Homo sapiens: one gene and its partners. The protein of the gene in region 1 purifies or fractionates together with the protein of each later gene. This does not show direct contact. Each region holds a gene or a part of one and is shown on either strand. Other genes may lie near its edges. The genes, in order: PRDX3, DHRS4, ATF2 and OPA1.

The links.
Region 2: the proteins of PRDX3 (region 1) and DHRS4 purify together in Homo sapiens (affinity purification with mass spectrometry; 3 studies listed by BioGRID and IntAct, with this or other methods). This does not show direct contact.
Region 3: the proteins of PRDX3 (region 1) and ATF2 purify together in Homo sapiens (co-immunoprecipitation; 2 studies listed by IntAct). This does not show direct contact.
Region 4: the proteins of PRDX3 (region 1) and OPA1 purify together in Homo sapiens (affinity purification with mass spectrometry; 4 studies listed by BioGRID and IntAct, with this or other methods). This does not show direct contact.

What each region holds. Positions count from the first base shown.
Region 1 is NC_000010.11:119,175,801-119,183,309, reverse strand, and holds the start of PRDX3 (thioredoxin-dependent peroxide reductase, mitochondrial isoform a precursor), read left to right. Parts: upstream 1-4,497; 5' UTR 4,498-4,519; coding exon 4,520-4,555; intron 4,556-6,156; coding exon 6,157-6,289; intron 6,290-7,509. UniProt on the Homo sapiens protein: Thiol-specific peroxidase that catalyzes the reduction of hydrogen peroxide and organic hydroperoxides to water and alcohols, respectively. Plays a role in cell protection against oxidative stress by detoxifying peroxides.
Region 2 is NC_000014.9:23,948,907-23,956,769, reverse strand, and holds the start of DHRS4 (dehydrogenase/reductase SDR family member 4), read right to left. Parts: upstream 3,001-7,863; 5' UTR 2,982-3,000; coding exon 2,854-2,981; exon of another isoform or gene 2,573-2,853; intron 2,023-2,572; exon of another isoform or gene 1,736-2,022; coding exon 1,558-1,735; intron 1-1,557. UniProt on the Homo sapiens protein: NADPH-dependent oxidoreductase which catalyzes the reduction of a variety of compounds bearing carbonyl groups including ketosteroids, alpha-dicarbonyl compounds, aldehydes, aromatic ketones and quinones.
Region 3 is NC_000002.12:175,074,195-175,081,216, forward strand, and holds part of ATF2 (cyclic AMP-dependent transcription factor ATF-2), read right to left. Parts: intron 6,572-7,022; coding exon 6,466-6,571; intron 894-6,465; exon of another isoform or gene 806-893; intron 674-805; coding exon of another isoform or gene 666-673; exon of another isoform or gene 642-665; coding exon 415-641; 3' UTR 1-414. UniProt on the Homo sapiens protein: Transcriptional activator which regulates the transcription of various genes, including those involved in anti-apoptosis, cell growth, and DNA damage response.
Region 4 is NC_000003.12:193,589,125-193,596,212, reverse strand, and holds the start of OPA1 (dynamin-like GTPase OPA1, mitochondrial), read right to left. Parts: upstream 3,006-7,088; 5' UTR 2,836-3,005; coding exon 2,804-2,835; intron 1-2,803. UniProt on the Homo sapiens protein: Dynamin-related GTPase that is essential for normal mitochondrial morphology by mediating fusion of the mitochondrial inner membranes, regulating cristae morphology and maintaining respiratory chain function.

The DNA of each region.
Region 1 (7,509 bases):
GGGGTATTTAGTTAATTCATAATGTTATACCCACCTCTATCTAGTTCCAAAACATTTTCATCACCACAAAAGAAAATCCTGGACTTCCCTCTCCCTCTCCCTCTCCCTACTCTCCCTCTCCCCACGGTCTCCCTCTGATGCCGAGCCGAAGCTGGACGGTACTGCTGCCATCTCGGCTCACTGCAACCTCCCTGCCTGATTCTCCTGCCTCAGCCTGCCGAGTGCCTGCGATTGCAGGCGCGCCGCCACGCCTGACTGGTTTTCGTATTTTTTTGGTGGAGATGGGGTTTCGCTGTGTTGGCTGGGCTGGCCTCCAGCTCCTAACCGCGAGTGATCCGCCAGCCTCGGCCTCCGGAGGTGCCGGGATTGCAGACGGTGTCTGGTTCACTCAGTGCTCAATGGTGCCCAGGCTGGAGTGCAGTGGCGTGATCTCGGCTCGCTACAACCTCCACCTCCCAGCCGCCTGCCTTGGCCTCCCAAAGTGCCCAGAGTGCAGCCTCTGCCCGGCCGCCACCCCGTCTAGGAAGTGAGGAGCGTCTCTGCCTGGCCGCCCATCATCTGGGATGTGAGGAGCCCCTCTGCCTGGCTGCCCAGTCTGGAAAGTGAGGAGCGTCTCTGCCCGGCCGCCATCCCATCTAGGAAGTGAGGAGCGCCTCTTCCCGGCCGCCATCCCATCTAGGAAGTGAGGAGCGTCTCTGCCCGGCCGCCCATCGTCTGAGATGTGGGGAGTGCCTTTGCCCCACCGCCCCGTCTGGGATGTGAGGAGTGCCTCTGCCCGGTCGCGACCCCGTCTGGGAGGTGAGGAGCGTCTCTGCCCAGCCACCCCATCTGAGAAGGGAGGAGACCCTCCGCCTGGCAACCGCCCCGTCTGAGAAGTGAGGAGACCCTCTGCCCGGCAGCCGCCCCGTCTGAGAAGTGAGGAGCGTCTCCGCCCGGCAGCCGCCCTGTCCGGGAGGGAGGTGGGGGGTCAGCCCCCCACCCGGCCAGCCGCCCCGTCCGGGAGGTGAGGGGCGCCTCTGCCCAGCTGCCCCTACTGGGAAGTGAGGAGCCCCTCTGCCCGGCCAGCCGCTCCGTCCGGGAGGGAGGTGGGGGGTTCAGCCCCCCCGCCCGGCCAGCTGCCCCGTCCGGGAGGGAGGTGGGGGGTCAGCCCCCCGCCCGGCCAGCCGCCCCATCTGGGAGGTGAGGGGCGCCTCTGCCCGGCCGCCCCTACTGGGAAGTGAGGAGCCCCTCTGCCCGGCCAGCCGCCCCTTCCGGGAGGGAGGTGGGAGGGTCAGCCCCCCACCTGGCCAGTCGCCCAGTCCGGGAGGGAGGTGGGGGGGGGTCAGCCCCCCGCCCGGCCAGCCGCCCCGTCCGGGAGGGAGGTGGGGGGGGTCAGCCCCCCGCCCAGCCAGCCGCCTCGTCCGGGAGGTGAGGGGCGCCTCTGCCCGGCTGCCCCTACTGGGAAGTGAGGAGCCCCTCTGCCCGGCCACCACCCCGTCTGGGAGGTGTGCCCAACAGCTCATTGAGAACGGGCCACGATGACAATGGTGGTTTTGTGGAATAGAAAGCGGGGAAAGGTGGGGAAAAGATTGAGAAATCGGATGGTTGCCGTGTCTGTGTGGAAAGAAGTACACATGGGAGAATTTTCATTTTGTTCTGTACTAAGAAAGATTCTTCTGCCTTGGGATCCTGTTGATCTGTGACCTTACCCCCCAACCCTGTGCTCTCTGAAACATGTGCTGTGTCCACTCAGGGTTAAATGGATTAAGGGCGGTGCAAGATGTGCTTTGTTAAACAGATGCTTGAAGGCAGCATGCTCGTTAAGAGTCATCACCACTCCCTAATCTCAAGTACCCAGGGACACAAACACTGCAGAAGGCCTCAGGGTCCTCTGCCTAGGAAAACCAGAGACCTTTGTTTACTTGTTTATCTGCTGACCTTCCCTCCACTATTGTCCTATGACCCTGCCAAATCCCTCTCTGTGAGAAACACCCAAGAATGATCAATAAAAATAAAATTAAAAAAAAAAAAAAAAGAAAATCCTGTACCTACTAAATAGTTCCGGCTGGGCGCACTGGCTCACACCTGTAATCCCAGCGCTGTGGGAGGCCAAGGCAGGCAGATCACTTGAGGTCAAGAGTTCGAGATCAGCCTGGCCAACATGGCGAAACTCCGTCTCTACTAAAAAATACAAAAAAAAATTAGCTGGGCATGGTGGTCACACCTGTAGTCCCAGCTACTCGGGAGACTGAGGCAGGAGGATTGCTTGAATCTGGGAGGCAGAGGTTGCAGTGAGCTGAGGTTGCAGTGAGCTGAGATTGCATCACTGTACTCCATCCTGGGCAACAGAGGGAGACTCTGTCTCAAAAATAAATAAATAAAATAAAAAATAAATAGTCAGTCCCCATGCCAGCTTCTCCCAGTCCCTAACAATTGCTGATTTGCTTTCTGTCCCTTTGGAATTACCTATTTTAGATGTTTCATATAAAAGGAAACACACACTATTTGTTCTTTTGTGTCTGGCTTCTTTCACTTAGCTAGTGTTTTCAAAGTTCATCTGTGTTGTAGCATATATCAGTATTTCATTCCTTTTATGGATAAATAATATTCCATTGTGAACTACAGTATTTTTTTTTTTTTTTTTGAGACGGAGTTTCAATCTTGTTGCTGAGGCTGGAGTGCACTGGTTCAATTTCGGCTCACTGCAACCTCTGCCTCCCAGGTTAAAGTGATTCTCCTGCCTCAGCCTCCCAAGTGGCTGAGATTACAGGTATGCACCACCATGCCCAGCTAATTTTGCAATTTTTAGTAGAGAAAGGGTTTCACCATGTTGGTCAGGCTGGTCTTGAACTCCTTACCTCAGGTGATCCACTCACCTCAGCTTCCCAAAGTGCTGGGATTACAGATGTGAGCCACTGCGCCCGGCCTACAGTACGATTTTGAGCTCCAAAATGATTGTCTCCTTTTCAATCATCTGCTAAACACAGACATAATTAAAACCAATTAAACAAACACAAGGAAGGTGTGAGGTGAAATAGTCGAAACGTGTGTCCCCACACATCCAAGGCAGTCCTTTCCACATCTGGGGACTGGTACCCAGGGTGGCGCCTAGTGGTACCTGAGATGATTTTAGAAAATATACTGGGCTGGGTGTGGTGGCTCACGCCTGTAATCCCAGCACTTTGGGAGGCCAAGGTGGGAGGATCACCTGATGTCAGGAGTTCAAGACCAGCCTAGCCAATATGGTGAAACCCCATCTCTACTAAAAATACTAAAAAAATTAGCCGGGTTTAGTGGTGCACGCCTGTAATCCCAGCTACTCGAGAGGCTGAGCCAGAAGAATCGCTCGAACCAAGGAGGTAGAGGTTGCAGTGAGCCGAGATTGTGCCACTGCACTCTAGCCTGGACGACAGAGTGAGACTCTGTCTCAAAAAAGAAAAGGAAAAAAAAAAAAGAAAGCCAATTTAAAGAAAATAGTAAGTGATATTTGGTGATAAGAAGACTTGAGAAACGAAGTTGCTAATTGAATGACTAGTGATTGGAAAATACCAACTCAGACCGGGTGCAGTGGCTCATGCCTATCATCCCAGCACTTTGGGAGGCCGAGGTGGGCGGATCACTTGAGGTCAGGAGTTTGAGACCAGCCTGGCCAACATGGTGAAACCCCATCTCTACTTAAAATACAAAAACTTAACTGGGCATGGTGGCAGGCGGCTGTAATCCCAGCTGCTCAGGAATCCCAATTACTCATGAAGCTCAGGCAGGAGAATCGCTTGAACCCGGGAGGCAGAGGTTGCAGTGAGCCAAGATCATGCCACTGCACTCCAGCCTGGGCGACAGAGCAAGACCCAGTCTCAAAAAAAAAAAAAAAGAAAAGAAAAGAAAAGAGAAAAGAAAATACCAGCTCCAAGACTGCAATTTGTCACACTTACTGTAAGGCCACGGTGTGATTTTTATCTATGTTTGATGTGGTTGCTTCAAGTACTATGCTCACCACTGAACACTTGGCTTCATTAATAGACAAAAACCAAATTTTAAATTTGTCCCAGTTTTCCCAATTTTGGGAAGAGAGGCCAAATGTTAGACCACACACAATTCCAGCGGATTTCAGGCCAACAAAGCCTTGATGTGTCTAGCCCACTTAGCTTATTAACGGACTAAAACTGCATTTGTAATTAATTCCATTTCATACAGAAGCCGGAAGTCTCTACCTGAGGCTGAAATAAGAAAGGGATCCTGTCACAGAAATACTAGACACAGTAATCCACACAAGGTTAACAAAACAGTGGGAAATATGGAAACAAATACCTAATGCCCCGCCTGGATTCGTTCTTTTAAGGTTGGGGCGACAGTAGGAAAACCACGTGTCACTTGCCCAAGCATTCAGCCTTAAAGGGAATTTCTCCCTCAGGGTCTCCAGGAGGCGGGGAGGCGGTGGCTCCTCCGGCCCCGCCCCCCCACCAGCAGAGGGCCCGCTCACCACCCCGTAGGCCCCGCCCCTGCGTCTCTGCCCGCCCCGTGGCGCCCGAGTGCACTGAAGATGGCGGCTGCTGTAGGACGGTTGCTCCGAGCGTCGGTGAGTGGCTGTCGGCTGGGGACAGGCGTGGAGACACTGGTGGCTCCGGGAACGTGCTTCTCAGACAGGACCCCGCGCTTCTGGGCATGAGGGCCATTCGCCCTTCTTGGAGGGTTTCCGCGGGTAACGGACCCAGAGGCCTCCCTCCGGGAAGGTTCCATGCGCCTGCGCAGAACCGCCCTTCCCCACTCCATCCTCGCGGTCTCTTCCCCGAGTCCCTCCTCTTTCGGCGTCCCCGGTCCCCAGGCCCATCTCCACTTAAGGTCCTGGCCCTGATTCTGCCACCGACCCTGTGATCTTGGGCAAGCGCCTTCGCCTTTCTCAGACTGTGTACTTAAGATGGAAAGAATGATGCCTACATCAAGGCGTTGCTGTGAACAGCCCCTTAAATACTGGATAAAAACGCGCAAAGTGCTAAAAAACTCACAAAGGCTTTCCCTCCCAATCCCACTCCCGCGTGTTTCTGCTGCTGTTTCCTGCTTAACTGTGGGCAATGCGTCGTGCTCTTTTGGTACACGGCTTTCTCTGGTGGGGTTCAACACAGCCCCTTTCGTTCTCCTGAGTCATTTTGAACATTAAAGTTGAGCAAACCGGCAGAGTGCGGTGGCTCACGCCTGTAATCCTAGCACTTTGGGAGGCCGAGGCGGGCAGATCACTTGAGCCCAGGAGTTTGAGACCAGCCTGGACAATAATAGTGAGACCTTGTCTCTAAAAAAAAAAATAGCCGGGCATGGTGGTCAGTGCTCCTGGGGAGGCTAAGGTGGGAGGATCACTTGAGCCCAGGAGGTCGAGACTGCAGCGAGCCGAGATCGCGCCACTGCACTCTAGCCTGGGTAAAAGAGCGAGACTCTGTTTCAAAAAAAAAAAAAAAAAGTTGAGTAAACATGTCCCTTGAGCCTTTAACAGACTCCCAGAGGCTGAATTTGGCTCTTCTTGTTTACTTGTCGCTGGTGCTGGAGGGGCCTTGTTTTTCTAAGGAAAACCTTGAAATGGTAGAACATACTCAGCAGATAGTGCTGGGAAAAGCCTGCACAAGTCCCCTGGCTTCTGAACCCTGTGTTGCTTTAAGCGCATGGAGTTTCTGATTTTTTTTTTTTTTTTTTTTGAGACGGAGTTGTCGCCCAGGTTAGAGTGCAATGGCGCGATCTCGGCTCTGCAACCTCTGCCTCCCGGGTTCAAGCAATTCTCCTGCCTCAGCCTCCCAAGCAGCTGGAATTACAGGTGCCCGCCACCGCCGCCTGGCTAAGTTTTGTGTTTTTAGTAGAGATGGAGTTTCACCATCTTGGCCAGGCTGGTCTCGAACTCCTGACCTGGTGATCAACCCGTCTTGGCCTCCCAAAGTGCTGGGATTACAGGTGTGAGCAACCGCGCCCAGCCGGTCTTTGTGTTCTTATAGTTCCTCTCCACCTTCCAGTCTCCTAGGAGAAGGAAGCAGAAGGGAGTGTTAAGAACATGCAGATCCAATCCATGCTCTTAGAGTTTGGGGTTTGCTATTTGGTTCACAGGAACAGGGACAGCTGAAACCACCGTTGGCACGATGCCCTTTCAGCCTTCAGTCACCAGTCCAGGAAAACTTTCTAATAAAAAGTTTCTCTTTCCAGGTTGCCCGACATGTGAGTGCCATTCCTTGGGGCATTTCTGCCACTGCAGCCCTCAGGCCTGCTGCATGTGGAAGAACGAGCTTGACAAATTTATTGTGTTCTGGTTCCAGTCAAGCAAAATTATTCAGCACCAGTAAGTGTTATGTCATGTCTTGGCTGGAGCCAGGTAAAGGAAAAATGAACCATCGTCTCTGGACAGGGGCTCTGAACCCTGGCCAAACGTTAGAGTCACCTGGGAGCTTTCAGGAACACAGCACTGCCCCCGTCCCACCCCAGACAAGTTAGTCTGTGGGGTGAGACCAGGATGTGCCGGGTGATTCTAACGTGCAGCCAGGGTTGAGAATCACTGAGGCAAACTGCCCTTGTCACATTTCCATGTTGGTTGTCAGAGTTTCTAATCCACTGTGTTGAGGAGGGTGTTACTGGGAGCTCAGATGCCTTCTGAGTCTAGTGTGTCTGAAGAGCTGTGAGTGGTGGGCAGCCTGTGGGGGACCTGAGAGGGCAGCTGCTCTAAGATTCAAACCTGTGTAATGGCCCCAGCTGGCCACTTAGGAACCAGACCTGTCTAATGGTATCTGTAATCTGAGCGAAATTTAGCTGTTTCTTGAGATTTACACTCCCTTCTCTAGGATATGGGCTTTGCTAAGATCAGCCTCAGATAATGAGTGGTATTTGAAAATACCTTGTCTAGATTTGACTAGCCTTTGAAAAAGCCCGTATTTAATATGTAATGGTTTGTGGGGATATACTTTAGTAAAGCCTTTGTTTGTGGGCAAAATGTTCTAAGAGCTTTCGCAATTTTACTACCCTGGAGCTTCAAAATATTTCTAGTAGTGATGTGATACCACAGGCTTAAAACTTTACTCCACTGGTTTCGAATCCTCATCCCCAGCAGCGCCTCCTGTTTCTGTTCATGGCGGTGTCAGGCATTTTGACATTGGAACTACTCTGTCGCTCATTCCTGGGTAGAAGCAAGTCCTTTTCAGTTTTGACACATCTCTTGCATCCATTCCTTTCTGTTCTTTCTGCCCCATACCTCCCCTCAATACGTCTAAGATCACTGAAATCGAGGCTGGGCACAGTGGCTCACACCTGTAATCCCAGCACTTTGAGAGGCCAAGGCAGGCGAATTACTTGAGGTCAGGAGTTCAAGACCATCCTGGCCAACCTGGTGAAATCCCGTCTCTACTAAAAATACTTAAAAAAAATAAGCCGGGTGTGGTGGTGTGCTACTGGAATCCCAGCTACTTGGGAGGCTGAGGCAGGAGAATTGCTTGAACCTGGGAGGCGGAGGTTGCAGTGAGCCGAGACCATGCCACTACACTCCAGCCTAGGTGACAGAGCGAAACTCTG
Region 2 (7,863 bases), on another chromosome or scaffold:
TAGCTGGACGTGGTGGTGGATGCCTGTAATCCTAGCTGCTCGGGAGGCTGAGGCATGAGAATTGCTTGAACCTGGAGGCGGAGGTTGCAGTGAGCTGAGATTGTGCCATATCACTTCAGCCTGGGCAACAAGAATGAAACTCTGTCTCAAAAAAAAAAAAAAAAAAAAAAGGATATGGAGGCCCATGGCCTCTATCTTTCCAATGCAGCCCCTTCCCCAGCAGTACTCCTGAGCCTGTGCTCTCCACTGTGGCCTGACAGTGCTCCTCTGTTTCCTTCAGTTCCTCCTTGGCTGTCTGCTCATTTTGCAGAGTTATCTGGAACCTCATCACTATTCCATCTGTCCATTCCCATCCATTCCTTAAGGTTTAGCTCAAGTACCACCTCTGGGCCAGGCCTGTAGGCCATGTTAAGTGAACCTGGTGGGGGCCACAGGATGTTTTTCCGGGAGGATTTTCACATTACATTGCTACATGTCATATGGTTAGTGCTAATTGATCCAGACTCCCAAACGGCTCCTTCCACCATCAGGATCAAGGCCCCAATCTTGGGGTCTGTCCATCAGCCTAAGCCAAGCTTTTTTGGACTCACATTTGTGACTTTCTTGGACTCATATTTGGCTCTTTCCAATGCACATTTGAGCATTTGCCAGACAGTTCCTTAAAAATGGAATTACCCTATTCTGTCTACCATACTACTGTCTACTATTGCTTAAGATCCTCCTCTTCTAAGATTATGCAAATTATTTCTGCCAACCTTCCAATCTGTTAGCAGAATCCTGTACTTTCCATTTTTGGGTAGATTCTCCCTTCCACTCTGGGAAATAAAGTGTATGCCGTGAGCCTCAAGGGAAGAGGAGCTTCCTTTGTGAATGCTTCATATTTGCTTCAGCAGCTGCAAGGCTGGTGTCCACTACTAATTCTGACATCGACTTATATACTTTCTTTGAGACTAAAGTCCAGTACCCGGTAGTCCACAGGCAGCCAATAAAGGAAGGGAGCCTGGGAGGTCTGGGTCTTTCCTTACTGGCTGTGGGACCTTGGGAAGTTGCTCCAGCTATCTGAGCCAGGGTCTGCAGACTGAGAGAATAGTCCTTGCCTTGCTTGGGTTGTTGTCAGGTCTAGAGATAACCTGTGTAAGGCTCTGAACACAGGAAATGGCACATAGTAAGTGGCTGAAACATGGTGGGCTGCTTCCTGAGGTTCCCAGGGACTTGACTCTATAAGCTGAAGAAGAGGGGAATGTTTATTAACTCATGGGTGGGAACATGTATTTTGTGATTGTATTTACCCTTCACATCTGTTCAATTAGATTGAAAATTACTGCAGAACCAGTACCAGCTGTTTCTTTGGGGTACTCAAGGGATGATGCAGGGTTGAAGCATTAGAATGTTTTAAAATTCTCTGACTGAGATGGGATGATTCTCTGACGTTAGTATATGGACATAATAGAAAGGCACACAGTAAAAATGTGCTGCTGTCTAGGAAAGCAGGGAAGGAGGCTCAGGCTGGCTCCGTTTTCCACCTCCTGGCTCTGTGCCCATTTCCCTGCAGCTCACCGTGGCCACCAGCCGCTCCCGGTCCTCCGCCTTCCCCACATGGCACACGGTGCCCGTCACGCTCAGCCCCTCCCCCTGCAGCGTGGCCACCGCCTGGTCCACATTCTGCTGCTTCCGGCTGCTGACGACCACATGGGCCCCGTCCTGGGCCAAACGCCGGGCGATGGCGAAGCCGATCCTGTGAGCAGAAAGAGACAAAGACTGCTAAGGCCTGTGCAGGGGAAGAGGTCGACAGTATGAGCTCTGAAGTTAAGACTGCCCGGGTTTGAATTCTGGCTCTTTCTCTATATAACCCCTACGTGTGCCTACTATGTGTAAAACAGGCTTAATGGCATGGCCATTTTTGGCATTCCTTTACTTGTTTTTATTATGACCTGGACCACAGCCTCAGTTCCCAAGAACTGACATCACTTTCTACAGTTCCCACCATGGGTGACAGGCTTCATCCCCTCTTGGGACTGAGAGGTGAGAAATGAGCTGGGTTTGCAGCAGCAGCCACTTCCGTGATTTGAGGGTCTCACTCAGAACAGCCCTGCCCCCAGGTTTCTTTCTTACTCGTCTACATCATTCTCAAAATTCTATCCTTAGTTATTTTTTGGGGTGCATGTGAAAAGATGGTCTCCGGTCAAAAATGTAAATATTGCCTTGGGAGGAAGAGTTACACATTTTGCATTTGTCAGCTATTAGCATTTTACCTACATTTGTATTTTAGTTTTGTGAAGAGCTGGCATCTAGCAAAGTCCTGTAGAAATGAGGACCAGGATAGACAAGAATGGTGGGTGAGAAACAGGCTGGGCAAGGTCGGCCCAGATGTACCGACCTAAACAAAAATCTCGACATATGGCTCTGGTGTCCCATCTAGGTAAGGGGGAGGGGTTCCGGGGGACTTTCCGGTGCCCAAATAGAATGTCTGGTACATTTTCAAAGTGCTGGAGGCCGTGGGATAGTATTTTGAAATCCAGATTTCCTTGGATTTCCAGTTTCTGGTCTTCCCAGACGCTAGGTGGCGCTGGTTGACTGGGGCAGCCCAGAACACTGGGGAGACTAGATCGATAGGGCTGCACAGAGGTGGCACAGTTGTGCCAGAGGTAGCAGGGACAGGAGGGCTGGCAAGGGAGGGTCCAGGGCTAGGGGATTCGGAGTGGCTTCAGGCGGACCACGTGGCTACCTTTTTTCCAGGGCCAGACTTTGGCAGCGTGTAAGGTCTGAGGACAGGGGCACCGGAGGCCGAGGATGAGAGGCCAGTGCCTGTTTCCAGGCAGCCAGGGCCTCAGAAACTCCGGCCGGAGCACTCACCCGTCGGTGGAGGCCGTTACCAGGGCCACCTTATTTGCGAGCGGGTCCCGGCGGGTCATCCCGGAGCTGGCCATCCGCACCGAATTCCAAGCCCGGGCACAGAGGCCTAGCAGCCCCGCCTTGTGCATGGATCAGACCAGCAAGTATGGGTTCCACTCTTCCCAGGGGCGGTGACAGAGTAGGGCGAGGGGCAGGACGAAGGGCGGGCCGATTCCCTGCCCGCCCTGCTCCCCGCCCCGGTACCGCTGTGAGCGGTCTGTGGCCCTGGGCACCTCCATCCGCCGCGGCGCCCCTCCACCATCTACCTTCCGCCTGACTGGGGCTTGCCTTTCCGGGCTGGCGGGTGAGCTCTCCGTTCAAGTTGCCTGTAGGGCTCGCCCCTCCCCTGGCCCTTGCAGGAACCCGCAGGCTTTGGCTGCTGCCTTTCTGCATCTGCTTGCCCACCTTTTCTTCTCTGGGAAGTGGGGGTTTTGAGTTGGTTGCTTTTGCTTCTTCAGAATTCCTTCTCCAAGAAAGTCTGGGTCTATGTGTGTGACAGCCCACAGGAGGGCAAATGTTTTGAGACTGCCCATGGAGGTGAGGCCTGTGGTCGCCATGGAGTCCACCAGGTGAGGCTGGAAGAGCCTGGGAGAGAGACGTGATAGGGAGTAGCTGCGCCAGGCCTGGCACTGCCCTTCACTCTGCCCAAGGTCTCTTCCATCTTCACGGGCCCTGGAGGGCAGACTATGGTCATTGGCCAAACAGCATTCTCATGTCCGTTGACAAAGGGACTTCCTCCTTTACAGGGGCTAAGTGGTAGCGAGGAGGCTGGACAGTCCCTCAAGCAGTGGTGGAAATGCAAAGAACTCGGGGCACTCAAGTTCTCCCTAACCACTCTGTCCCCAGGTCTTAGCCGCCATCTTAGTTCAATAAATATTTGTTGAATGCAAAATCTCTTTATGAACTGTAAGCTACTAAGCACATAGTAGTTACTGCCACCATGTAGTGATTATTATTGGTGCCCTGGGCCAGACTCTTCATCTGTAAATTACTGAGGGTATGGATGATGAATAAAGTCCTTGCCAGCTATAAATTCTGTGTCCAAGACTTCAGTCTGCACTTCTGCCAAGTGGGCTGAAATGATCTCCCTCCTGGGTTTCCGGGAGAATGAAGAAATCTGGATGGCTTATGGTACAGTGTAGAAAGGCCCCAACAGACCCAAATGCAAGCATCTGAATTGGTTTAACCCACTGGCCTCCAAAGCCAGACTGAGAAGCAGTGCTGGTTCATGGCAGCGTTTTCACTAGTTCAAGGCAAAATGAGAAAAGGAAACAATTACAGTGAGTTTCATAAAGCTAAGCTTATTTAACAGTCCTTTATTGTGGAGTATACGTTTGCTTCTTTTTGTGTGTGTGTGTGTGTGTTAGTGTTTTCTTTTAGAAAAGATGATGAAAGCAGATGGGTAGGTTTAGAGATGTGTTATTGGTGAAATCACCAGTTTGGCAGCCTTATGCCAGTCCCTACAATTAAAGGGGAAAGAATCCTGGTTTGTGAAATCCAGTTCTAGGCATGACTTTTGAATAGAATTCATGTTTGCTCAAGATTCATTTAGTATATGTGCAGGTAAGCTGAGCAGCTGAAAAAGGGTTTCAACATTCAAAAGGGGGTGTATGGTGAGCAAGTAATAGAACGGCCTGCACTGGAATTCTAGTGTTTTCCTCAGCCAAGAAGTTACAGCTGCAATACTCTGCTTTGCTACTCAGCAGATCCCGATGAGACAGGAGAGCTTCAGTATAATTTTCCCCATGTCCAGGGAAGGCTGACTCTGACTGGTGCTCCTCAGTCTGAGCCTCATGAATTATTGACAGAGGCTGGAAGCGCCACACTGCTTGTCCTCTTGCACTGTTTGGAGCTAACGCACTGTGGGAACCCTTCCCAGGGCTCTCCATCTGTGTGTGCGGCTGGGGGAGGGTACACAGGAGGACGGCTGCGGGGGTTCTCAGGGCTTGGTTCAAAGGGACAGGCCTGCAGGGGGCGTTTGATCTCTCTTTCCCTTCTCTTCAGAGGTAGACAGGTGGACTCAGGGGCTGAGGTTGGCAGGAAGGTGAGGAAGACTACACTTCAAAGAGCAAAGGATTCTGGGAAGAGAGAATTGTGGCTTGGGTGCTTGGTGAACATTACATGGCCCTTCCTTGTGTGGGCAGGGTTGCTATTTGGCCTCTAGCACTATTTCTTTTGTGGAGAGCACAGGGGACATTAGGGAGGGGGCCTGTGAGCAGAAAAGGATGGAAGGAAGTCAAGAAGTATGGGACTCTCTAGCACTACTCCTCATCAAGCTCGCTTATTGGAGATAAGAACAGGAAATCTTGGGCTGGGCATGGTGGCTCACACCTGTAATCCTCTTTACTAACAATACGAAAATTAGCTGGGCGTGGTCAGAAGTTCGAGATCAGCCTGGCCAACATGGTGAAACCTCATCTCTACTAAAAATACAAAAACCAGCCGGGCCTGGTGGCATGTGCCTGTAATCCCAGCTACTCAGGAGGCTGTGGCAGGAGAATTGCTTGAACGTGGGAGGCAGAGGTTGCAGTGAGCCAAAATCATGCCATTGCACTCCAGCCTGGGCAGCAGAATGAAAGACTCCATCTAAATAAATAAATAAATAAATAAATAAATAAATAAATAAATAACGGGAAATCTTTCAGGGAAATACATGCATATGTGGGAGTATCTCTTTGAAATGGGAACTGTAACAGGCAATGGGATTGTTCTTACATGGAGGTGGTAACATCTGCCTATCTTGAGGGACAAATGCCTTCATGAGTGAGGGCACTACTCCCATCCTTTTCAAGGGCTGCCTGCGGTCCAGAAGAGATTTCACCTGGGGTGGAATTTAAGTCTTGCGTTTTGCAATAGCTGTCCTAGATTGAGTCGAGTCCTGCATCACTGACACAAGTCAGAATTAGGCAATGTGGGAGGGCTGGTGTGGGGTTAGGACAACTACCAAGCAGAGAAAGTAATAGTAAGAGTGTTAACAGTATTTATTGAGCACTTCCTTACTAAATGCTGGCAAGCGTTAAGTGCTTTTTATAAATTTTATTGAATATTTTTAGTCTGGTGAAATGGGTGTTTTAATGTAGGGAGCCAAAGGCCTGAGGGTCGTGACCAACTCAGCATTCCACTGAAGGCTGTATGATCTAACAGCAAACTGTTTATCATGAATGCAGAATGTGGGCAAACTCACTTCTGCGCCTGCTACCAGAAGGTTTGCTGAGGGCAATGACTCCCTGGTGCTGTGCTCCTTGAGGTTATCTACAGGAACATCTGGAGACTACTGTTCAAAGAATGCAGTCATGCAAGCCTGCACTAAGCCAAGCAGCTGACTGACAACTACCCCCTTCTCCCTATCTCCTTTACTCAATAAATACAAAGGGCTATAGAAGCTCAGGGCCCTTCTTCACTAGAAGCAAGGAGCCTCCTGACCCCTTCTTCCAAAATACTCTTTTGTCTTTGTCTTTATTCCCACATTCATCTTCTTTTGTTAAGTCCACCAAGGACTGTGGCATTTTAACTTCTTCTTCTTTTTTTTTTTTTACTTTGTGACAGAGTTTTGCTCTGTCGCCAGGCTGGAGTGCAGTGGCACAATCTCAGCTCACTGCAACCTCTGCCTCCTGGGTTCAAGTGATTCTCCTGCCTCAGCCTCCCAAGTAGCTGGGACCACAGGTGCATACCACCTCACCCAGCTAATTTTTGTATTTTTAGTAGAGACGGGGTGTCACCATGTTGGCCAGGATGATCTCGATCCCTTGACCTAGTGATCTTCCTGCCTTGGCCTCCAAAAGTGCTGGGATAGCAGGCGTGAGCCACTGCACCCAATTAGGTGTTTTAAATTCTCTATGTGAAATCAGAGTGACTGATGACAACCTTGACCACTGTGTGTGTTGCATAGTTACACTTCAGTTTTCTGGCATTGTTGGGCAATCCATAGTTTTCATAGAAATCAATTTTCTCTCAACTGGAATTTAAACTTTCAGGATCAGTGTGTTTTTCAAATCAACACATCTACTCATTAAATTATATAAATAACACATTATTTTAAAAAGGGACAGAAAATTATTTGAAAAGTAAAAGGTAACTCTTCCCTATGGTTCTTTTACCTTCTTCCCATATAGCTCTTGGCTTTGTGTATCCTTCCAGAAGTTTCCTGTACATTTACATGCATTTTTCTTTTAAAAATTTTTTCCACAATTGAAATGACACTATACATACTGTCCTTCAAATTTCTTTTCTTTTCTTTCTTCTATGCTCCAATCCCCACTTTTTAATTTCTTTTTTTAAATAATTATACTTTAAGTTCTGAGATACACTTGCAGAATGTGCAGGTTTGTTACACAAGTGTACATGTGCCATGGTGGTTTTCTGCACCCATCAACCCATCATCTACATTAAGTATTTCTCCTAATGCTATCCCTCCCCTAGCCCCCCACCCCCCTGAAAAGGCCATGGTGTGTGATATTGCCCTCCCTGTGTCCATGTGTTCTCATTGTTCAACTTCCACTTATGAGTGAGAACGTGCAGTGTTTGGTTTTCTGTTCTTTCATTAGTTTGCTGAGAATGACGGTTTCCAGCTTCATCCAGGTCTTTGCAAAGGACATGAACTCATCATTTTTTATGGCTGCATAATATTCCATGGTGTATATGTGCCACATTTTCTTTTTCCAGTCTATCATTGATGGGCATTTGGGTTGGTCCAAGGTTTTTCTATTGTGAACAGTGCTGCAATAAACATATATATGCATGTGTCTTTATAGTAGAATGATTTATAATCCTTTGGATATATACCCTGTAATGGGATTGCTGGGTCAAATGGTATTTGTAGTTCTAGATCCTTGTGGAATGGCCACACTGTCTTCCACAATGGTTGAACTAATTTACACTCCCACCAACAGTATAAAAGCGTTCCTATTTCTCCACATCCTCTCCAGCATCTGTTGTTTCCTGACATTTTAATGATTGCCATTCTAACTGGTG
Region 3 (7,022 bases), on another chromosome or scaffold:
AACTTTGGTATAAATGATAATACTACTACCGTCACAGTTGAGGGTTAAGGGGTGGTCAAAAGAAATGGAAGTGGGAAGAAAGATTCAGTAACACCCCCATTTATTAAAACACCAGCAAATTAAAAGTGAAATAAATCACAATGAATTATAATACAATTTACACATTGAGCACAGAAAAATTAATAAATCTAATAATATTTATAAAAAAAGCAAAATCAGTCTTTTTCCAGAGACTAAAAACCGTTTTTCAGTCTGATCAACTGCTGCTACACCAACTTTAGAGCCAAATTTAATTTCAAGTAAAAAAAAAAAATTTACAACCACAGATTTCGCATAAATGGAAACTGGTCTTTCCTTGATTTCCCTTTGAAGTCACTAATGAGTATCTAAAACTGTTGTACTGCAGGTTTTTAATCAACTTCCTGAGGGCTGTGACTGGGAGGAAGGAGCCATAACGATCTGTGAAAGAGCAGGCTCTGTACTCTGGTCCGCCATCTGGGTGAGGACTGAAGTGGCTACAGCTTCTGCCTTGGAGGTTGAACTGACTCCATTGGATGTGCTGACCGAACTATGCTGTATAGCTTCTGTATGTGGACTACTCGGCACTGAAATGTCTTCTGAACTATCATCTTTATCAGCAGCTGGGTGGAAAAAAGAAAAATTATTCATTTTCCTAAAATCGGTAAGAATGCACCAGTATGCTGAGGCAATACACAGAGTAAAAAGTTAGAAAGTATCTTACAAAACTGATTAGACAAGTTGGTATTACAGCAATTGATATAGGTCATGAAGTAGGCAATTTTACCTGCAATAGGTCAAAAGAAGGCACAACCATGCATATGGAAACATCTGGGTGCCCACTGCCTTATGGAATAGAGCTGAAGAAATATTTGCTAAATAGTGTTAAAGAAAGAAAATGAGGGAGAGTTTGGAAGATAGTCTCTTACAGATACAATCAAACATTAAGTATCACATTTAACAAACTCAGTCTGGTTGGCCTACATGTCATTCTTATTACAAGATAAAAATGTATAACCACATGCATAAACAAAATGAATTCTTACATACAAATTATATCTTCAAATTATTCCCTCTGCATTCTCCAGAACTGTATTTATTCTGACTGATTTTCCATCTATTGCAGCCATGGATGATTATAACACCTGATTCTAATGATGCATACATAGGAGAACAAGCAGTATTTAGAATCTAAATGCCACCAGCTGTTATAGTTGCATGAATAAATTGGGATTCAAGTAAAAATCCATATAAAACTCTAAACATTGCATCTGAAAAGATATTAAGGAAAGGGCATTCTAAATATTTACGAAAATAAATCTGCAAATATTTAGACCTGAACAAGTCTCTTACATCCTTATTTTAATAGAACAGAATCCAGTAATTTCATTTAGTAAAAATTTGATATAGATAACACACAAATATTTATAGTATATGTAAGTTATGAGGAACAATGATAACATGAACACCTGGGAACCGAGCCGCCAACTTAAGAGAGAACATTGCCATTAACACTTCTGCTTCCTGGAGGTTCCTGTCCTCACCAAAGGTAATCACCACTCTGACATTTCTTTAACCATTCTCGTTTTTTCTCTGCAGTTTTACCACATAGGCATGTATCCCTAAACAATATAGTTCAGCTTTGTTTATTTTGAAACATTTTAAAAACAGTATCACACTGGATGTATTCTTTTGCACCTTGCTTTTTTCACTTGGCATTAAAACTTTTTTTATTCAGTGTTTAGGAGTGACAGTAAATAGGCTTCTAAAATCAAATCTAAGAATGTGTATTGGCCTGCTTACTAATGGCCAGATGCCCATTCTGAAAGTCAATTAGTGAAAAAAATTGTGGACATCTTATGAAGCAGGACTTAGCCTATGATTTGCAATGTAGAAGATGGAGAGGGGGATACCTGGTAGTGTCAACTTTAGCTAAAATAAAATTATTAATTTTGTGCATTTTCTGAAATATAGTTTTTACAGAATTTTTCAACATCTGCCTCAAATCCATGCATTTTTGAAAAGCAGGTTTTAAAATACATTAATGAGATGGAACCCCATCTTCTCTATAACATGCTATAAATCAAAACCATACCCCTAGATACTTGACCTCAAGGTACAATAAAACAACACCACCACCACCACCAACCACCAGAAGTAGTAATCCTTTAAAAATTATATAAAACAGAATGAATACTTAAAAAAAATTATAGATTCAGATGGTACATATGCAGGTATGTTACATGGGTATATTGTGCAATCCTGGGGTTTGGGCTTCTATTGAACCTATCACCAAAATAGTGAACATAGCACCCAACAGGTCGTTTCTCAACTAGTGCCCCTCTCCTTCACCCCCCTACTTTTCTGATCAAGCAGTAATGAATGTTATAAAATATTTATAATTCAGTTATTAAAATAGCCAATATAATCATTACATAATCATTACATGTATATAGAAAACAAAATACTGGCAATGACAGTTTAACTGGAGGGAATACTAAAAAGCTCTATTTGTTTTGTTTCACCACTATTCTTTTTTTTTTTTAAGTATTTATATGTGATTTTTAAAATTTTTTTATTTTTATCACTTTTTAAAAATTATACTTTAAGTTTTAGGGTACATGTGCACAACGTGCAGGTTAGTTACATACGTATACATATGCCATGTTGGTGTGCTGCACCCATTAACTCGTCATCCAACATTAGGTATATCTCCCAATGCTATCCCTCCCCCCTCCCCCCACCCCACAACAGGCCCCGGTGTGTGATGTTCCCCTTCCTATGTCCATGTGTTCTTATTGTTCAATTCCTACCTATGAGTGAGAACATGCAGTGTTTGGTTTTTTGTCCTTGCAATAGTTTGCTGAGAATGATGGTTTCCAGCTTCATCCATGTCCCTACAAAGGACATGAACTCATCATTTTTTATGGCTGCATAGTATTCCATGATGTATATGTGCCACATTTTCTTAATCCAGTCTATCATTGTTGGACATTTGGGTTGGTTCCAAGTGTTTGCTATTGTGAATAGTGCTGCAATAAACATACATTTGCATGTGCCTTTATAGCAGCATGATTTATAATCCTTTGGGTATATACCCAGTAATGGGATGGCTGGGTCAAATCGTATTTCTAGTTCAAGATCTCTGAGGAATCGCCACACTGACTTCCACAATGGTTGAACTAGTTTACAGTCCCACCAACAGTGTAAAAGTGTTCCTATTTCTCCACATCCTCTTCAGCACCTGTTGTTTCCTGACTTTTTAATGATCACCATTCTAACTTCACCACTATTCTTTAAAAGAACAACAGGCTGACGTTTCCCTGAATGTTGAGTTCAAGGGACACACCAGCTTTTAAAAATAAAGAGGCTGATCTGTGATGAGTGGTATAAGGAAACGTAAATACATACTGGAGTCAACAACTTAAAATGAAACAGTAAATTATAAGGGATGAATGCTTACCTACAGACTTTCAGAATTAGGTAAAGCAAATCTTTAAGCAGTACAAAGAATCAGGTACTCACAATTATGTAATTATAAACCTTACATACACATCAAATACCTTTACAATGTGATATATTTGCACCTATGTCCAGTTCTAGGTGAGGGGAGAAAATGACTGGTGTAATCACAAGCACTAGAGAGATACAGAAAACCATGCTGTACTCAAAGAGCCACTTCCAGCTCTACCTAAGCTAAAAGAAACCAGCTGTTTGGCAATTCAGTAATCTTGAAAGTTCTCTACCTATGTCCACAAGTTTCTTTTCCTTATTTGAGATAGGGTCTCCCTGTCGCCCAGGCTGGAGTGCTATGGCACGATCACAGCTCACTGCAGCCTTGAACTCTTGGGCTCAAGTGATCCTCTTGCCTCAGCCTCCCAAGTAGCTGGGACTATAGGTGTGTGCCAAAATGCCTGGCTTTTTTAAACTTTATTTTTTGTAGAGATGGGGTCCCGCTATTTCACCCAGACTGGTCTTGAACTCATGGGTTCAAACAATCTTCCCGCCTTGGCCTCCCAAAGTGTTGGGCTTACAAGGGATGAGCCACAGTGCCTGGCCTATACATATTTTCAGTAATAAAAGTATTTGTGGTTGATTAGTCCCCAAGAAGCTTTTCTTCCCATTTATAATTATAGAGACAATTATAATACAACTTTAATTATGCCCAGATCTAAAGAATGTGAATTCATGGCAATAAGATCACTTTTGTGCTTTATTTTTCATGGAACCCAAATATTTAAAATGTACTCTTAGTATTTTCATTCAGGTTTTATATTACTTAACTGTTGGGGTGACTAACTGTCATGGTTTTCCCACGACTGAGGGGTCTTCTTAGGAAGTAGGACTTTCAGTGCTAAAACTGGGCGGGACAGACCCTATGGCTGTGACTTAGTACTTCCACCTTTACTTGAAAGATTTTGTAACATTCCTTAATTTCTACTAAATCTTAGTTTTGATTCCCAAATGTTTTTAAAGATTTAGCTAGTATTACAACTCACCACTGTTAGCAAGAGCTGTGTGCTACAACATAATGAAGAGTGTAAATTTTTCAAAGGTATTCACTTAGTCAATTTCTGTATCTATTTTTACTACTACACAACAGAGAAGTCAGACTTATTTCAAAGATTTCAAACTTGAAAATATAAATTACCTGAAAATTTCTACAAAATCCAATTATCTCCCAAGATCTGAAGAGAATTAATTTTATGGTAGAACTATATTTCAGTTAATTTGATTATCTACATGACTAGACAGGAATAAAGATAGGATTATTTCCAAACAACAAACATATCCTATTCATTTCTTATATTCTCATAACTTAGTACTCTATGTACTAAAAATGTATTAATCTAGATTTTCAGTCATTTAAGTATACAGTATATAAACCTACGCATCTATACACTTAAGATATCTTGTAAATCAATTGTCAAATGAATAACTGGTTTGCATCTGCTGAGCATACATTGCCTGGATAATAGAGTCAAAACTGTTGGGATTATCTAATAAATTATCAAAGATTTAAAAATTACAGGTAATTCTGAATTGGATACAATTTAAGAGAACAGTTAATTTCCTTTTAATTTTATAAAACAATTTATTTCCTTTTAAACTATGAAAATCCAAGAGAGATTTCTTGTTAAGAAAATCACGTATGCATAAATGCTGAACTAGTAGCTTCTATAGGAAATTATGTTGTTAAGTCAGATGGGAACCATAATGGCCTCATCCCTGAAGCAATCATTGTTAATATAAATCCCAAACATATTTCTATATGGTTCCAATTTACTCCAATGTGTTTCACCATCCTGTCAAAATTACTAGATATCAAATAAGCAAGATTTATATGCTCAAAACTGACAAAAATCAGCGTTCTAAATATATATGGCAATTGAGAGTAGCTAAATCTACGGAATCTTTTAAATTAAAAAATATTGCCCATTCTGATGAAACTGCTTATAATGACTACAAGTAAAGATGGTGGCCATTAAGTTTTATCGTGAGCACCTGAGGAACTGTTTGCATCCAATACAAAATGTTTCTTTCTTTTGAATTACTGACACTGGCAAATTAAAATGAAGTGGATACATATGGTTGAAACAATCTTCACATTTACTAATATCCTGAAATATCACTAAATCATAAAGACTAAAACTGTGGGTTATATATTATAAATGTTGCCTAATGCATTCCCAACTCTGTTGTTTGTTACAAATTTGTATACTATGGACAAAATTGGCCATTTATTCAAGAGTAACAGCTGGTTCCAACACTGTGCATCTTATCAAAAAAGAAGGACATTACAAAAAGGAAAAGGCACAATTAACCTTTAAAATGCTGAAAACAAAAGAATCTCATTCTTTGGGAAAACATTTAGCAGGAAATTTACAAGCAGATAATTTAACTACTGTTCCCGTTTTAACATTTTTATAAACTAACTAGATATCTCAATATAAAGGTTTACAACAATAAAAACGTTACACAATGCTGACATTATCTAAGAAAGAACAATAGGATCTGATACCTTAAAGGGATATCATATATTGTTAAAGGCAGTCAGCTGATTTTAAAAAGAAAAATATCATCATTAATGAACGGAGGCTGGGAAAAAAGTAGTGTTTCACCCTGTCAATCTAAGACAAAGTGTTATCCTGAGAAGATGAACAAAATATCATCAAGTACTTACAGTATATTTTAAATTATTAGCTAATCCATTTTGTTGATCTATAGTAACGCTTAGGAAAAAAGCTAGAAACAGGAAAACTCAAACTCTCTAGATTCTAAAAAATTATACCTCTCTACTGCATTCTATAATAACCTTACAGAAATTCTGATATTTAATCTTGAATATTAGAAGCACAGTCTCCATTTTTAAAGTAGCAGCTCAGTTCACTCTGACGGTATTTCACTGACGTAGCCTAAGGCTATAGGTAATGGAACATTACTCACTATGATAGCCAGATTTCTTCTGCATGGCGGTTACAGGGCAATCTTTATGAGCCAGAAGAAGCTGTTTCAGCTGTGCCACTTCATTTCTCAGCAGGGTGACTTCACTCTGGAGAAGAAACAACTTATGTACCTTACCACAGACTAAACATATTTTTTACTATTTAAAACAAGCAAGGATTAAAGTATAAAATTGGACATCACTGGCAGAACATTAAAAACAAAGAAAATATGCTGATTAAATATGTCTAATCAGCACAGGGCAGCTTTTATATTTTAGCATTTATTAAAAAGCTGTAACTTGAATAAAAATTTAAGATAATGCCACAGCTGGATAGCATATTTCAAAATTGTTTCCATTTCCCTGGGACTTCTTATATATTATTGGTGACCTGTTGAAAGTATTTTTATTTTATATATGTTGCATGCTCTTCTGATTATTTAAAAAGAAACATCAAGGGAGTCAGGATGAATTTTCACTGATTCCATTCACCTAAAAATGAAAAAAATCATCCTAGAAATTCAAATAAGCAAGTTTCCAGTTTCCTAGAAACCAAGAA
Region 4 (7,088 bases), on another chromosome or scaffold:
AAAAAAAAAAAAAAAGGTGAAAAACATAAGAGGAAAGTTAAGTGATGCAGAGCTGTGGTAATGTGGTATCCAAAGGGAGTGGGAGGATGGGGGCGGAATGCATCCCGTGGGATGAACAAAAGGATCTACTGGGATTCAGGAAGAAAGTACTGAAGCTTCTAGATGCAGTATGTTTTGTATCTTATCCTTTAAGATTATGTTAGGGTTGACTTACAATGTAAATAATTAGTACAGATACATATATAATTTAAAAATAAAAAAGTGTGCATATATACATAGGGTATATGTATGCTTTTCCTTTTAACAGACGACGAGTACAAATCTTACTTTGGAAATCACGGACATAACATATCAATCTAAGAGGACCACTATCCTCCTAAGAGATGTCTAGAAAGAAAAAGGACAGGAAAAATGAAAGGAAGATAATAAAAAATAAGAGAGAAAAACGTCTCAGAAATGAAGAAAGATAAAGGGAAAGGCCCACTGAGTGTGCCAAGTCAAATGAGTAGCAAAAGAAAACAAAACCAAACCCACACCTGGTCCAAGCCTTGAGAAATTTAGGATAAAGGATAAAGTCAAGACCCTAACAGATTCCATGAAGGGAAAAACAAGATAATCATGAAGATGAAAAAATCAGATTGTCATAAGAATTCTCAGCAGCAATAAACAATTACATTAGAAGAAAATGCAGCAATGCCTTTACAGTTCTAAAGGAAAAGAATTTTGAATATAGACTTCAATATTCAGTCAAAACTAAAAATCAAGTATGATGCAAAATAGGTTTCCCCCAGAAATCTACTCTCTTGTTCATTGACTATCACTTTTAATCAATATATCATTTCCTAATATGTAATTCTTTTAAAAATAATTTTACACAATTATTTATTGCACCCAAATGTTAGTATTGATCTTTTCACATGTCCATGAGCATGTATTTACATATGTATGCCCAAAGAAATGCTTATGCTCTCATCTGTTAGGGAGCAGGAATTTAACTGTATTCTTTCACAACATGCAAAGGAACTATAGCAAAAGAAAAACTGCAGAGCTTGGGGCTTCTGGCTTCCCACATCTCTACTTCTTTAGGTAGCTAAACTGTGCCATCACCAGGAGACATTTTTAAGCCATGACTCAATGGCATCCATGGTAACTTTAGAAATAATTTAGCCCAATGACAGCCAATTAAATAAATACCACTTATAAATCAGTTTGTTTTAAAACTCCGTCTTTGTAGTTCTTCTTATACATCTTAATTGCTCCAACAGAGAATGCTATCTTCTGCAGTCTTTTCTCTTTTTATTTAAAGAAAATCAGATATGTTTCCTCACTAAATATTGAGAAGTAGAAATGCAAGGGTTGTAAATAACTTACTTTAATACCAAGGGCTGTGAACTTACTCAAAGACTAAAATTCCATGAGATTAAAAATACCTATGCAATAATTCTAACTGACTAACACTGTTAACTATTGTTATCTCATCTAGTTCTGTATTTTGGACTCCAGTTAACCTATATAAAACAAATTGGGCCGGGCGCGGTGGCTCACGGTTGTAATCCCAGCACTTTGGGAAGTCGAGGAGGGTGGATCACATGAGGTCAGGAGTTCGAGACCAGCCTGGCCAAAATGGTGAAACCCCCTCTCTACTAAAAATACAAAAATTAGCTAGGCGTGCTGGCGCGTGCCTGTAATTCCAGCTACTCCGGAGGCGGAGACAGGAGAATTGCTTGAACCTGGGAGGCGGAGGTTGCAGTGAGCCGAGATAGCGCTACTGCACTCCAGCCTGGACGACAGAGCAAGACTCCGTCTCAAAACAAAACAAAAACAAACTAACGAATGCATTCCATTCCTTATAAACACGATAAATTATCTATACCACTTAAAAAGGTCTGGAAAAAATTCAAAACAACTGCTTAGAAGTTAATTCAGGAAAACCACGTTTTTCCAATTTTGCTTGATGCATCTTACTTCCTATCAAATGCCTGCAACAATGAGCTAAGCTTGAAGGTATCTAATGATACTAGAACAAAATTTCCTATAAAATCCAATTTAATCTCATTACAATGCATATAGTAACGCACAGAAATGAAAAGATTTCTATGATTTTCTATTTAGAATTAAACCACCCCAGGGCAACAATGATTGAGATTAGAAAGGTGGTGCCACGTTCACGACCTTGCATCAAAAAGTAAGTCTCCCTCCCGAAACACAGAAAAAAGCTGCTATTGAAAGGGCATCTCGAATCACCGTCTCTGACACCGTGTGCGTCATTGCTCTAGTTCTGACTTCTATCAGCGGGCTAGGGAAAGAGACGGACGCCCCTTTCCCCGATAGAAGAGCCCAGGTACCTGAAGATGCAATGTACACATGGCGTGGAAATGGAAGAAAAAGAAGACACCGAGAGTTAGGAGAAATGTGGAGAGAGGTGACTCATGGACAGAGCCAAACCTGGCAGGGAGAGGACAGAAAAAAGGCAAAAGAGGCAACCAGAGACAGACAGAACACTGAAGACACAAGGGTGTAAAGGGCAGAGACAAAAGGACAATAGAGACGGGCCAAGATTGAGAGGCGTCCAGAATTTTCGGGTTGGGTAGGGCCAGAGAAAAGGGCCAGTATTGAAGCCGGCTCCGAACGTAAGCCCAGCCAGGGCTCCTGTCATTCTGGGTCCTCAAGAACATCTGGGAATTCTCCAACTGCCGTCGGCCTGGCCTGAGAGTCACCTGCACATTTTTGGAGATAGAGATAAGACAGCCCCACTCTCAAGAGGCCCCAGAATTAACGGGGCCAGATTAGAGCCTGCACTTACCAGGCCACAGCGGCCCGACGTAGTCGCCACATCCCGCCGGCGGGGAGGTCACGCAGGCGCCGAGACGGCCACGCGGGAGCCCCCGTGTGAGCCCCAGCCCGGCTCCCGGTCCAGGAATGACCCAGGAAGTGGCCCTCAGCAGCAAGGGCACAGAGCCGCGGCCGAGGCCCTCCCAATGGCGCATGGACTTCCGCAAGAGCCTGACAGGCACCCGTACTCAGTCCGTCACGGAAACAACCACTTCACCCTTTCTAGGCGGGCAGCACGAACGGTCCGCGGAGGACCAGCGCATGCGCACAGTGCGTCGGGAACGGACTGGAGCAATCCATCGCCTCTCACGGGGCCCCGCCCTCTTGCTTCCGATTTGGAATTCGGAATTAGCCTTGCAGGTTAGAGATTTGGCCAGGGGAGGGAGCGAGAGTTGGGCGGGAACGGGAAGGGCTAAAGGCGTGGAATGAGAATTGATGAATGCTCACCGGGAGCCATGAATTTATTAAGAGTTGGATATTGAGGGAGCACGAAGGAAACTAGAGAGTGCAAGGTGAAATACAGTAATAGCGTACTACAAACTAATGCTTGCACATTTGCCTACCTTCTTTCTTGGGCATCTTTGTTTGAAAGCACTTTCACATCGTTAGGGCAATCATGGGAGGTGAGAAGCAGGACGAAGAGTCATGGATAGGCTAAGTCCCTTAGAATCTCTGAGGATCAGATGGGAAAGGGACTTAAATCAGTTAGGCCAGTAACGGGTTTGGAATAAGCTTGTGTGGTTTATAAAAGGCGTCAAAATGATTTGTTCAACTGTTTCTTCCGGATTTTAAGCCCACCAGTTTGTTGAAATGGTCCTCGTCAAGGCCTCCACCAGCTCCCTATTGTTTGTGGCCAGTGAGCCTGCCACAGCATTCAGTTCAGATGCCTAGTGCTGAGCACTCCTTCAACTACTTTTTCTTTTGGCTCTCTGGCCATCACATTCTCCTTTTTCCCTGGAACTGCTGCTCCCAGGCTTCTTTGATGGCTCCCCTCCCAAATTTCTCAATGTTGGACAGGCCCAGATCTCAGCCATCTTGAGCTCCTCTCCTCCATCACTTTAAATACTCCTTTCCCCTTCCAACACAAACCTTTTATGTTTTGTAAGGAAACCAGGGCCCGTAAAAGGGATGTGGCCTGTGAACGGTTATGAAGCCAATTTTTAGGGACTAAAATAAAAGGGTCCTGTGCATCCTCTTTACTTCAGGGACCTTTCACCTCCTCCCCACTACCCGCCCCCCACCCATGCCACACACATACACAAATACACAGAGCATAAAGACAATTCCTTTTCCCTTAATTGTCAGAATCATAAGTCTGGACCCATGCACTCACAATACCACCAAGAGTAGACCTAGCCATTGATAGTAAACTTCCCAAATGCAGGACTCTTAGAATTTTCTTTATTTATTGTGGTGACTGTTTCAATGGCAGGTCCAGAGAGCAATTTGCTGTACCAACCTGTGCAAACTGTAGATCTTCCTGGGATTGTAGGGTTGTACAAAAAGTGTCTTTGTAATCGTTACTTCCTTGTTATTTTAGAAAATAAAATAAGAGAAACCAAGAGACTTTAACAACAACAACAAAAAAGAAAAATTAGGGATAAAAGACTTTAACCATAAAAAAAGGAGAAACTAACCACCATCACCATTTATATATGGTTATCATATGTTTTATGAAGCCCTTGTTTTGCAGTTCTACTTCTAGGCATTTATCCTGTGGAATCATTCCCATGTATGCAAAGATGTATGCATGATGATGTTTATTTCTGCACTGTATGAAATGGGAAAAGATTGGAATCAGTATAAATGTCCATGTATAGGAACTAGACACATAAATTACATCCGTACTAGCCATGAAAACCTATGCTTTAGGTCTGTATGTCCTGATAAGGAATGATCTCCCATAGATACATAGTGTTGCCATGAAAAAAGGGCAAACTGTTGTATAATAAACTGCAACCATTGGACCAAATTCAGCCCACAGACCTGTTTTGTTTGGTTTAGACAGTGTTGGCCTATGCAGTGTTTTAAAAATAACACTACATTTGGGCTGGGCATGGCGGCTTATGCCTGTAATCCCAGCACTTTGGGAGGCCGAGGAAGGCAGATCACGAGGTCAGGAGTTTGAGACCAGCCTGGCCAATATGGTGAAACCCTGTCTCTACTAAAAATAAAAAAATTAGCCAGCTACTCGGAGGCTGAGGCAGAAAAATTGCTTGAACCCAGGAGGCAGAGGTTGCAGTGAGCTGAGATTGTGCCACTGCACTCCAGCCTGAGCGACAGATCGAGACTCCGTCTCAAAAACAAACAAGCAAAAAAATGCTACATTTGTTGCCAAATAAAAATCAACAAATTTCACATTTTAAAAAATCACATAAAAATATCAGGATGCCTAACAACATCAACCTTCAATTCTTATATACAAAAAATGTCTCGGAACCAGGAGCCAAGTAGTAGTTTTATCCTTCAGGCACTCATGTCCTCTCCGGTAGTTCACACTCCTTCATCTTTCTGAAATTGAACACATCAATTACTGTTTATCATGAAGCTTGTGCTTCTACTTTTCTTAGTAAAAATTAAGAGGAAAAACAACCACTACTTATATTGAAACTGCCTTGGCAAAATTATGACAAGAGGAACCTGACATAGTTGACTCCATCTTGCTTCTGACCTCCAAGCTGTCCTTGCTCATTCCTGGACTTAAGCCAAATGAACTTTGGGGAGGAATGTAGTTTATAGTTTAACTTGAAAGAAAGGATTATAATAGTCCCTTCCTAAAGCTAACTCCCTCGTTGCTCAGGAACCAAAAACCACCTTTGTAAGAAAGGCCAAGAGAACAGGATCATGAGAGGGGCCTGAACTGTGCTAAGACGTAGGTATGGTTTCTATAGTCCCTTACTGCTCAGGAATCAATGTGGCCAGAACTCACAAATCTTATGACTTCCCCAATTGCTCCTATAGATAACATCATTACTATAGAATCTAAGACTGCTTTTTTGCGGTATATTTCAGACTCACCCCATCGAGACTTATGACTCATGACTCAAGTGATCCTGTGGCCCCGCCCAGAGGTGGACTCAGCACACAAGGAATGTTTTCCTATTATTTCATCCCCAACCAATCAGCAGCATCCATTCCCTACCCCTTGCCCACTAAATTGTCCATAAAAACCTCTAACCTCAGAGCCTTCAGGAAGATTGATTTGAGTGACAACTCCAGTTCTCCTGCATAGGCTGGTCTTGAATCAGTTAAACTCTTTTTCTACTGCGATGCCCTGGTCTCAGTGAAATGATTTTGTCTGTGCAGTGAGCAGGAAGAACCTGCTGGATGATTACAATATGAAAAGTGAGAGAAAATGAAGGACTGAGAGGGTCAGCCATTTCCAAAACAATGAGAAAGAGCTTTTTTTTTTTTTTTTTTTGGCAAAAGAACACAAGTATGCAAGTAGGCAAGTAAAATTATATGAATAAATTATATGAATACAATTTAATATGACATTATACAACAGACATACTTGCATTACTCATTTATGTTACATGCCTAACCCACGAAAATATTTGAGTTGATAAGCCCTAGTGAAGGGCAGAGTCAAGGAAGGACTTGAAGTTAGTGGGTCATGAGTGGGAGGGAGGCTTACATTTATTGTAAACCCTTTTATACTCTGAACTTGTGTATTAATTACTTGTAAAAACATGTTAAAAATATTTTTCTGATCCAGAAGTCATGAAATAATTTTACTACTTTAAACTAAATTTTCCAGTTCAGCTGGGAATTGAGCAATTCACCAGGTAAAACTCTAAATATTTACCTTAGCAGGAAAAGGGACCCTTTTCAGAATTATCCAACGAATCAGAAATTTTCAGAAAGGAAGGTAATGAGAGATGTTAATGGAAATGGAAATGTTTAAAATTGATTTCATAAGTTTTATATTTAAATTTATACATAAAAGCTTTTGCAAAGTTCTTCTTGGGAGATCTCCAAGTTCCTTAACACTACTCTTTGTGGTTTCCTGGAGAAGCCAATAATTAGCTGAAGTCATACATGTTTGCACCATCATCATTATCAAACTCTCCCCAGCCCTCAGAAAAGCATGTTATAATCCTTATTAACAAACATTTACAGTCACTTCCTATGAACCCTAGTCGAGGATATAAATACATATATATACACACACAAATTATATACACACACACACACACATATATATATATTTGGTTTTTGTTTGTTTGTTTGTTTGTTTTGAGACAGAGTCTCAC